Linked DNA regions of Homo sapiens: all the other regions are linked to region 2. The links come from fine-mapping of genetic effects on gene expression. A gene starts in region 2. Each other region holds a variant in brackets. All regions are shown on one strand. Distances are from middle to middle.

Region 1 (2,756 bases), 24 kb before region 2:
ATCCATCCACATCCTTGTCACCACTCATCATTCAAATAGCCACCAGCATCTGTGACCTGGTGTGCCCCAGTGCGGACATGAGCCATCCCTGGGACTGGGCATGTAAAGGAAACCACCTTGAGGTTCCCCGTCTGGGAGTGGAGGTGCACGTACACAAAGAATCACAGAGTGAACATTAGGTGGAAGGACAGTTTAATGTGATCTTTCAGTCCTGGGCCTGCAGTGACAGCATGGAGCTCTTGCAGCTCTCCAGGTCGGGTGAGACCCAGCCTCCAGGAACCAGGAAGCTGATGAATGTGAGAGCCCCACGGCCTGCTCCTGTTGGAGGAAAGCACCCACAAGTCTGCTAGGCTGGCAAAGAACAGTTGTCCGGCATCTTCTCCAGCCTTTTCCTCTTTGGTTGCTGGTGTCTGAGCTCCTGGTTTTTTCCACCTCGTCCAGGCCTCGCCTGACCTCATGGCCCCAGACCCCTCTCGGTCTTTCCACCCACCCTCTCCAGACCTCGTTTGGCCCTGGTCCAGATGGCCTGACACCCCAGCTGTTCCTCGTCAGTCACAATTGCTGGGATCTATTGACCACTAGCCTTTATACCCACCTCACTGTCAAGTTCCCAAGGCCCTGTGGTGCACCCTTCAACCTTCCGCAGCCCCTCTCAGCTGCTCAGGCCAAATGTCTTAGTGTGAGCCTCCATTTCCCTCAGACACTCATGTGTACATCGAGCCCGCTGACTCCCCACCCTCCCTAAGTCCAGCCTCAAACCTGTCCTCCATAACCGCTCCTCCACACAGCAGCCCAGACAGTCTTCCAGAACAATCAGGTCTTGTTGCTGCCGCTGCTCAGCATCCTCCAACAGGCTTCACTCACCCCCAAGGCCTGAGTGCTCTGACCACTGCCTGCCTTGCTGGTCCTGCTCCTACCCTCATCTGCTCTCCCTGCACCCCACCAAGGCTCCTGCCTCATCCCAGACATGAGCTGATCACAGCCCAGAGAGACACAATTCTGCATGCTGAAATCCCGAAAAATCAAAATTCTGAAAATATATTTCTGGAAAAAATAATTTTAAAATTATTTAAAAGATATTTATTTACTTTTTTTTCATTTTTTTATTTTTGAGACGGAGTTTCACTCTTGTTGCCCAGGCTGGAGTGCAATGGCACCATCTCCGCTCACTGCAACCTCT[A/G]CCTCCTGGGTTCAAACAATTCTGCCTCAGCCCTCTGAGTAGCTGGGATTACAGGCGCCTGCCACCACACCTGGCTAATTTTGTATTTTTAGTAGAGATGGGGTTTCTCCATGTTGGTCAGGCTGGTCTCAAACTCCTGACCTCAGGTGATCCGCCCGCCTCAGCCTCCCAAAGTGCTGGGGTTACAGGCATGAGCCACCACGCCTGGCCATCTATTTACATTTTTAAAGGGGATTTATTTGAGAAACATAAAAACATGACATATGACAGAACACATCATAGGCCACTTCACACAATAAAATAGACAATAATAATATCCATGTTTCTGCAAGTGTAAACAGTCATACCAATGACAGTTATGCACAGATGAGCTGTATTCGTAAAGAAATGTGTTGAGAGGGGAAATGCATGAACACCTACCGCTCGGGTGGGAATTGCGTGCGCCCAGGTTCATAACTGCAGTCTTCCGAAAAGCCAGGATGAACAACCTACGCCTTCTAACAGGCTCAATCTAGAACCGCAACAGTTCACCACCACATAGCCAGTCACCAAAAAAACCAAGATCTAGAGAAATTTTTCACAAATGCAGATGTACAAAAAGGACATCTCTTCATTTATTGAGGAAATATCCCATTTTTACCTACACACACAGACAACATTGTGGTAATGCACTTCTGTGGAGTCAGTTTTGCAAAAAATGCCTAAAACAAATTAGAACACTGTATAAGTGTTCTAATTTATATCTTCAGTATTGAAATGATGCAAGGATAAAATGAGAGCATAGTGAACTGTAAAAAAATAATGCTGACAATTTATGATGATGAAAAAAGCTAAAAAAACTATACAGAAAATTCAACTTGAAAAAGCCATATATGTCGAATTTTCTGTGTAAGTCATATTACAGTAGATTATGGGCAACTATGCAGAGATATTCTGTAAGAGCTGGCAAACTTCCACGACCCCATTAACTATATTCTGAAGTCTTGCATCACAATGAATAGCTGTTTTTTTTTTCTTTTAGGACATGGCTTTCCTTGGAGAATACATTCAAATTCATTTTCTAAGTGGCGCTACTTTTTAAAAATTTCTATGATTCCTGTGATTGTGATTTTTGGAATTTTAAATATTAGAGATTTTACACTTTAGATATTTTGATCTTTCAGGATTTCAAGACTCAGGAGTGTGTCTTTCAGGATTATAATCCAAACACATCCCAGACACAGGGCACTCCCACCCTTCACTGGCGCCTTTGTCTGGACAGCCTTTCCCTCAGGTTTTTACTTGTTTCTTTAGATCATTTAGGCTTTGCTCAAATGACATCTCCTTAGATATATCTTGTTTACTCTCTGTTTTTGAAGCTGGAATGTAAGTCCCATGAGGGCAGAGACTCCGTTGTGTTCACCACTGAATCTTTGGAGCCTGGAGCAGTGTCTGGTTTAGCAGACTTTTTCAGTCAATGTTACATGGATGGATGGACAGATGGGCATATGGATATATGGATGGATGAATGGATGGGTGGATGGGTGAGTGGATGGACAACAGATGAGTGGATGGATGCATGGATGCATGGATGGAT
Region 2 (2,756 bases):
CCCAGCACTTTGGGAGGTCCAAGGCAGGCAGATCACAAGGTCAAGAGTTCAAGGCCAGCCTGACCAACATGGTGAAACCCCGTCTCTACTAAAAATACAAAAATTAGCCAGGCATGGTGGTGCATGCCTGTAATTCCAGCTACTCAGGAGGCTGAGGCAGGAGAATTGCTTGAACCCAGGAGGCGGAGTTTGAAGTGAGCCGAGATCGTGCCACTGCACTCCGCCTGGCGACAGAACGAGACTCCATGAAAAAAAAAAAAAAAAAAAAAAGAGTAAAGTGAGAGCAAGTTTATTGAGAAAGTAAAGGAATAAAAGAATGGCTATTCTATAGGCAGAGCAGCCCCAAAGGCTGCTGGTTGCCCATTTTTATGGTTATTTCTTGATTATATGCTAAACGAGGAGTGGATTATTCATGAGTTTTCCAGGAAAGTGGTGGGCAATTCTCAGAACTGAGGGTTCCTCCCCTTTTAGACCATATAGGGTAACTTCCTGACTTTGCCATGGCATTTATAAACTGTCATCGTGTTGGTGGGAGTGTCTTTTAGTGTGCTAATGTACTGTAACTAGAGTAATGAGCTGTGAGGATGACCAGAGGTCACTCTCATTGCCATCTTGGTTCTGGTGGTTTTGGGCCAGCTTCTTTACACCATTATCAGCAAGGCCTTTATGACCTGTATCTTGTGTCAACCTCCTGTCTCATCCTGTGACTTAGAATGTCTACCCTCCTGGGAATGCAGCCCAGTAGGTCTCAGCCTTATTTTACCCAGCACCTCTCATTTCCACATATTAACCCCCCCGTTCCACACACTCTCACATTTGGTCCCAGGGGTCTCGAACACCCCTGACGTCCAGCCTCTGCCCGCCAGCTGTTCAGGTCGGGTGGGGAGGCTGCAGTGCAGACCCCTGCCCGGCGTCTCCCTGGAGACTGCCTTCCCTCCCATATATGGTGCGTGCTGCTGGCTGTCCCCCCTGTTCCCTCTACCTGGAAGTCTTTCCTCACCCCTGCCTTCAGAGTCTAACCTCTCCCCAGGCCTCAGCTGAAGGCCTGGCTCTGAGCCAGCCACCTCCTTCACACAACCCACCTTGCTCTGAAGCTGCCTGCTCACAGCCATGCCCCGATGCCACACCCAGGGGTTCTTGGGGAACATTAATGGGATAAAGGAGTAAGAAAATCAAAGGTCACCAAACGGAGCCCTTAAAGGGCAATGCTCTGCGTGTGCCACGGTGCCCAACAGCATCTCGTGCCAGCTGAGCTGCGGTGTGTGGACCCGGGGAATGGACCGGGCTGGACAACCTCTAAGACTTGGCTCCAGCTCAGCCTGTGAAGGAATCACCTCTCTGATCCCCACCTCTGCCCCGGAGTGCTAGACCCAGGGAGGAAGAGACCCCATGGACCAGCCAGAGGCCCCCTGCTCCAGGTGAGTGCTGGCCCCAGGGTGGTCACTGGGAACCGGCTGGTCTCAGCCCTCTGGGGCCTCCACCTCACCCGCTGACTTCCTCAGGCTCTCCACCCTTGTCCACATCCTTCCCCCACCCTCACTCCCAGGCTCAGGAGCCAAGCACTGCCTCCCCACAGAGGGCATTTGTGGAGTCTGTTCCCCACCAGGGGCTCAGATTCAGGCCCTGGTGCAAGGCCCCAAGCTGGGCCCCACCAAAGTGTGGCAGGGGTGGGGGCCCAGGAATACAGCCTGGGCCTGGCAGTGTCTGCTGCCAAAGAGGCCAGTTCTGCTCCGGGATCGGGAAGAGAGGGAAAAGAAGGAAAGCGAGGAAAGAGAGCTCAGGGTTCCTTGGAAATACCTCCCTCGGGGCATGTGACCTGTCCTGGGGTGTGGAAGGACAGAAGCAGAAAGGGAGGTGCAGGGGAGGAAGGTGCCCCCCAGAGCTCAGATCAGCGGCGGCCAGTGCCCACTTCACCCTCAGAGGGCGAAGAACACCAAGACGCCCCGACCCGGGTCCGGGGACGGGGGAGGGAAAAGTCTGGGGTCACTCCCCGTTGCCCCCTCCCGCCACCCCATGGATCCAGACGATGCTTGGCCCGGGACTCCCTGAGGCCCTGCCCGCGGTGGGTTCTCCGGCGCCAGAGTCGGGGGCGGGCGGGGGTCACCCGAGGGCCGCTCCCCGATGACCCGCGCCCGCCCGCCTCCAGCACGGGGCCGCGCCTCGCGGTGGCCCGCGAGCTGCTCCTGGCTGCGCTGGAGGAACTGAGCCAAGAGCAGCTGAAGCGCTTCCGCCACAAGCTGCGCGACGTGGGCCCGGACGGACGCAGCATCCCGTGGGGGCGGCTGGAGCGCGCGGACGCCGTGGACCTCGCGGAGCAGCTGGCCCAGTTCTACGGCCCGGAGCCTGCCCTGGAGGTGGCCCGCAAGACCCTCAAGAGGGCGGACGCGCGCGACGTGGCGGCGCAGCTCCAGGAGCGGCGGCTGCAGCGTGAGTTCTGCGCGGGAGGTCCCTCCTGTCTGGGCAGAGGCTGGGCTGCCCTCCTTCCCGCTTCCCGGAGAAGCCCCGGCGCGGTCCCCGGCCCCCGCGCGTTTTATCCACAAATTCGCGGGCCCCAGGGGTAGGACCCTGCGTGCTCCTCAGGGTGACTCGGACCCCCGTGGCGCCTTCCCCTGTTCCCGCCCTCGGCGGAACCTCACCCCAGTTTCCCTTCCAGGGCTCGGGCTCGGCTCCGGGACGCTGCTCTCCGTGTCCGGTGGGTCTCTCGCTGGGGGGGCACGAGTGTCCCCAACCCCACTTGGAGGGTCCCGGGGAGGACC
Region 3 (2,756 bases), 73 kb before region 2:
TGGGAGCAAGACCAGCCCAGCTAGGTTTCAGGGCAACAGCAAAGCCCCAGAGACATGGAGGCAGATGAGTCAACCTTGCTGGGTGAGAAGTGAGCTTGCACTGCATAGGGCAAGAAGAAGGTGGACCCCACTCCTCCAGGAGGCTGACAGTCTCAGCCAGGTACAATGGAGGGTCCAGGTCACAAGGAAGGGGGCTATGGTGAGCATGGATGGAGAAAGGTAGGCTTGCTGTGTGGAAGGAAGGAGGAGGGGAGGGGAAGGGTGAGCAAAGTGGGGCTGCAGGCATCAGGCTGTGGCTGATCTGTGGTCAGCCTGGAGCTCAGAGGCAGTTCTGGATTGACAGGACATATGGTGTGGCCACACAGGTGGGGGGACAGTGATCCCATAGTCCCCAGGGAGTGACTGGGAGGCAGAAGATTGGAACAGGACAGAGAAGGGCAAAGAAGCACATGGCTCATGCTTTAAAGGTGTTTTTATGCCAAGACAAGGGGGCGAGGACCTCATCTTGAGGTGGGAAGAAGTCGTTGCCCTGCCAGTCCAGTGGTTTGAACATGAATCCAGCCCAGTGGACAGGGAAGGCCCAGGGAGAGGTGGGTAGGGAGGGCATCCTGCAGAGGCTGGGGACAAGGAGGATGGCACAGAATGCCATCACAGCCAGGGGAGTCTGGCAGGGCTTGGCGGAGGCGCCAAAGTTACCAGCAAGCTAGAAGGCAACAACTGATAGCCCTCACAGGAACCTTCTTGTGTAGACCCACAGAAGCTCCCTGGCCCTGCCTGCTTTGCCTGACTCTGAAATGCCAGACAGGCCCATTTCTAGGTCTGTTCTCCTGAAAATACATCTTTGGTGCTGGGTAGATCCTGAATCCTGAGAATACAAGTTTCTGCTCCTGGATACACAGTCACATGACCCAGAAGATCCCAGCCCAGTGGCTAGGCCAAGGCTGCAGTCCACTCCTTCATCCACAGCCCGTTCTCCCCAAGGGTCTCACTTCATCGAAGGCGCAGATAACACAGTAGGGTGGCCTCCACTGGTCTGCCCATGCTCAGCAACCATGGCCAGGAGTAACTGCCATCTCCAGGGTGAGAAGCCTCGGTCGGAGGAGATGACACCCACTTAGGGTTCACAGCCCCTTCCTGTGTCAGTTCCAGGAACCTTGGATCACAGACATGGCCTCACCCAGACAAGGACACGACCGTGCAGCCTTAAGATGTCAGAGTCCCAAGCGCGGGGAGAAGGGCTGCAAGCCACAGGTGGCCACGTCTGGGATTCA[C/A]CAGCTGCTCTGCTCAGACCTGGCTTCTCCAGACACGCTGTGGCCCCAGCTCTGCCTGGCTCTCTAGCACCTGGGGGAGGGGGGAGGGGCTGGGCCTTGGTTTCCCCGAGAGAGTCCCTTTCACACATGGGACCAGCCAACATGAGCTCATCAGGTCACAGGCAGCCGCAGCCTCCTGCCACACAGGAAGAAGATTCCTGACCCACAATTATCATTGCAAAGGAGTATTTTGTAGGTAAGTCCTCTGGAGCCCAAAACACCAGGCAGGGAAGACCCTGGCTGCCCTTGGCACCCACAGACACCAGCTCCCACTGGCTCACGTCCTTGCCCTGGACAAGAAGTAGGAGAGGATGAAGAAGGCCACAATTAGACCCACGGCCATGCCACATAGAAGCTTCCGGTTGTCTTGTCCGGACCTTGCCATTGTGGAAAAGCGCTTCACGCTCCCTGTAAGCAGGCTGGTCATGCTTGTGAAATCCGAGTCCTAAGGGAGGAATCCCAGCAAGATCACACAGAAGTGGTGATTTGACCACCCACCCGCACCAGTGCTGAAGGAGACACTGCAGGCTCTGCAGCAGGTAGTGCTAGGGCAGGGCACTGATACACGCACACCGTGGGCCCTTACCATGCCATCCAGGTACCGGTTCTGATCCTCTGCATCCCTATCGATGTCCAGGGCGAGCTGTTCAGCAGACAGAGAGGGCAGGGTTGGGCCAGAGCAGACACATAATACAGCACTCACCCTCCCCAGACCAGATAAACCCTGCCAACAACTCTGCCAGACACAGTGGGGCTGCAGCAGACAGAAAGGTCCAGGTGTCAGCTGGGGCCTCATGCAGGTGAGCACAGCCACGAATTGGATGAGGATGGAAAACTGCCTGAAACTCCTCTGGGCCCTCTGCCTTCCCTCTGATCCCCATTCCCCAAAGGCACCAGGTGGAGGTAAGAGGACAGACCACCACTGACCGATTTGAGCCTGGTGACTTTGGAGGCCAGGCTGTCAGCCATTCGCTTGTTCTCCCGGTCTAGAATCTCTTCCACAGCGCCCGGGCTCTGAGCTGAGAAAAGAGAGGGGCTGAAGGGTTGCATCCATCGGTGAGCACGGCCCCTGACCCCTCTCACTCCAACCACATCTGGGTGAGTCAGAAATCTAGGGGGCCCTAACCAAGGTTCCAGCAGGTGAATCTTGCACATGAGACAGGCTGCATAAAGGACGATGTGTGTAAGGGCCTGTCATGTGAACACATGTCCTGTGTACACATCAAGGTGGGGATGGGCAAGCACCCACAATGGGTTCGGTCCAACCAGCACCTTCTGAGACTGTGTAGCAAAAACTGGACCCAGCCCTGGGGTGCTAGTATGATGTGACACTTGCATCCAGGGAGGTCACCATCTGTGTATGTGGAGCCCATTCTTATAGAAAAAGAGTAAACTCTGCTAAGAGCATAGAAAAGACTTGGGAAAAGTACCCAGCAAGGCAGCAGA

Direction of the effects. Positions count from the first base shown, and alleles are read on the strand shown. Sizes are in standard deviations (SD) of each study's normalised expression. Not every link is listed here.
For the expression in follicular helper T cells of the gene that starts at base 1,227 in region 2, allele G in region 1 goes with a lower level than allele A (large effect, 0.86 SD a copy in Schmiedel 2018).

Evidence for each region.
Region 1: its variant is fine-mapped to the expression of NLRP6 in follicular helper T cells (Schmiedel 2018, PIP 0.95). The same link has a PIP of 0.9 or more in Th2 cells.
Region 3: its variant is fine-mapped to the expression of NLRP6 in whole blood (INTERVAL, PIP 0.97).

The regions. Positions count from the first base shown.
Region 1 is chr11:253,241-255,996 of GRCh38, forward strand. It overlaps the pseudogene COX8BP. Among named protein-coding and RNA genes, the nearest start is that of PSMD13, 18 kb to the left of the region's middle. The variant A/G (reference allele first, on the strand shown) is at 1,181.
Region 2 is chr11:277,181-279,936 of GRCh38, forward strand. It overlaps NLRP6 (NLR family pyrin domain containing 6), which reads left to right and starts at 1,227. Exons shown (of 8, transcript NM_001276700.2): 1 at 1,227-1,418; 2 at 2,147-2,427; 3 at 2,654-2,692. The coding sequence starts at 1,390. RefSeq lists an enhancer at 2,527-2,756.
Region 3 is chr11:203,715-206,470 of GRCh38, forward strand. BET1L (Bet1 golgi vesicular membrane trafficking protein like) reads right to left here. Exons shown (of 4, transcript NM_001098787.2): 2 at 2,238-2,329; 3 at 1,897-1,953; 4 at 1-1,755. The coding sequence ends at 1,588. Among named protein-coding and RNA genes, the nearest start is that of BET1L, 2.3 kb to the right of the region's middle. RefSeq lists an enhancer at 2,101-2,600. The variant C/A (reference allele first, on the strand shown) is at 1,272.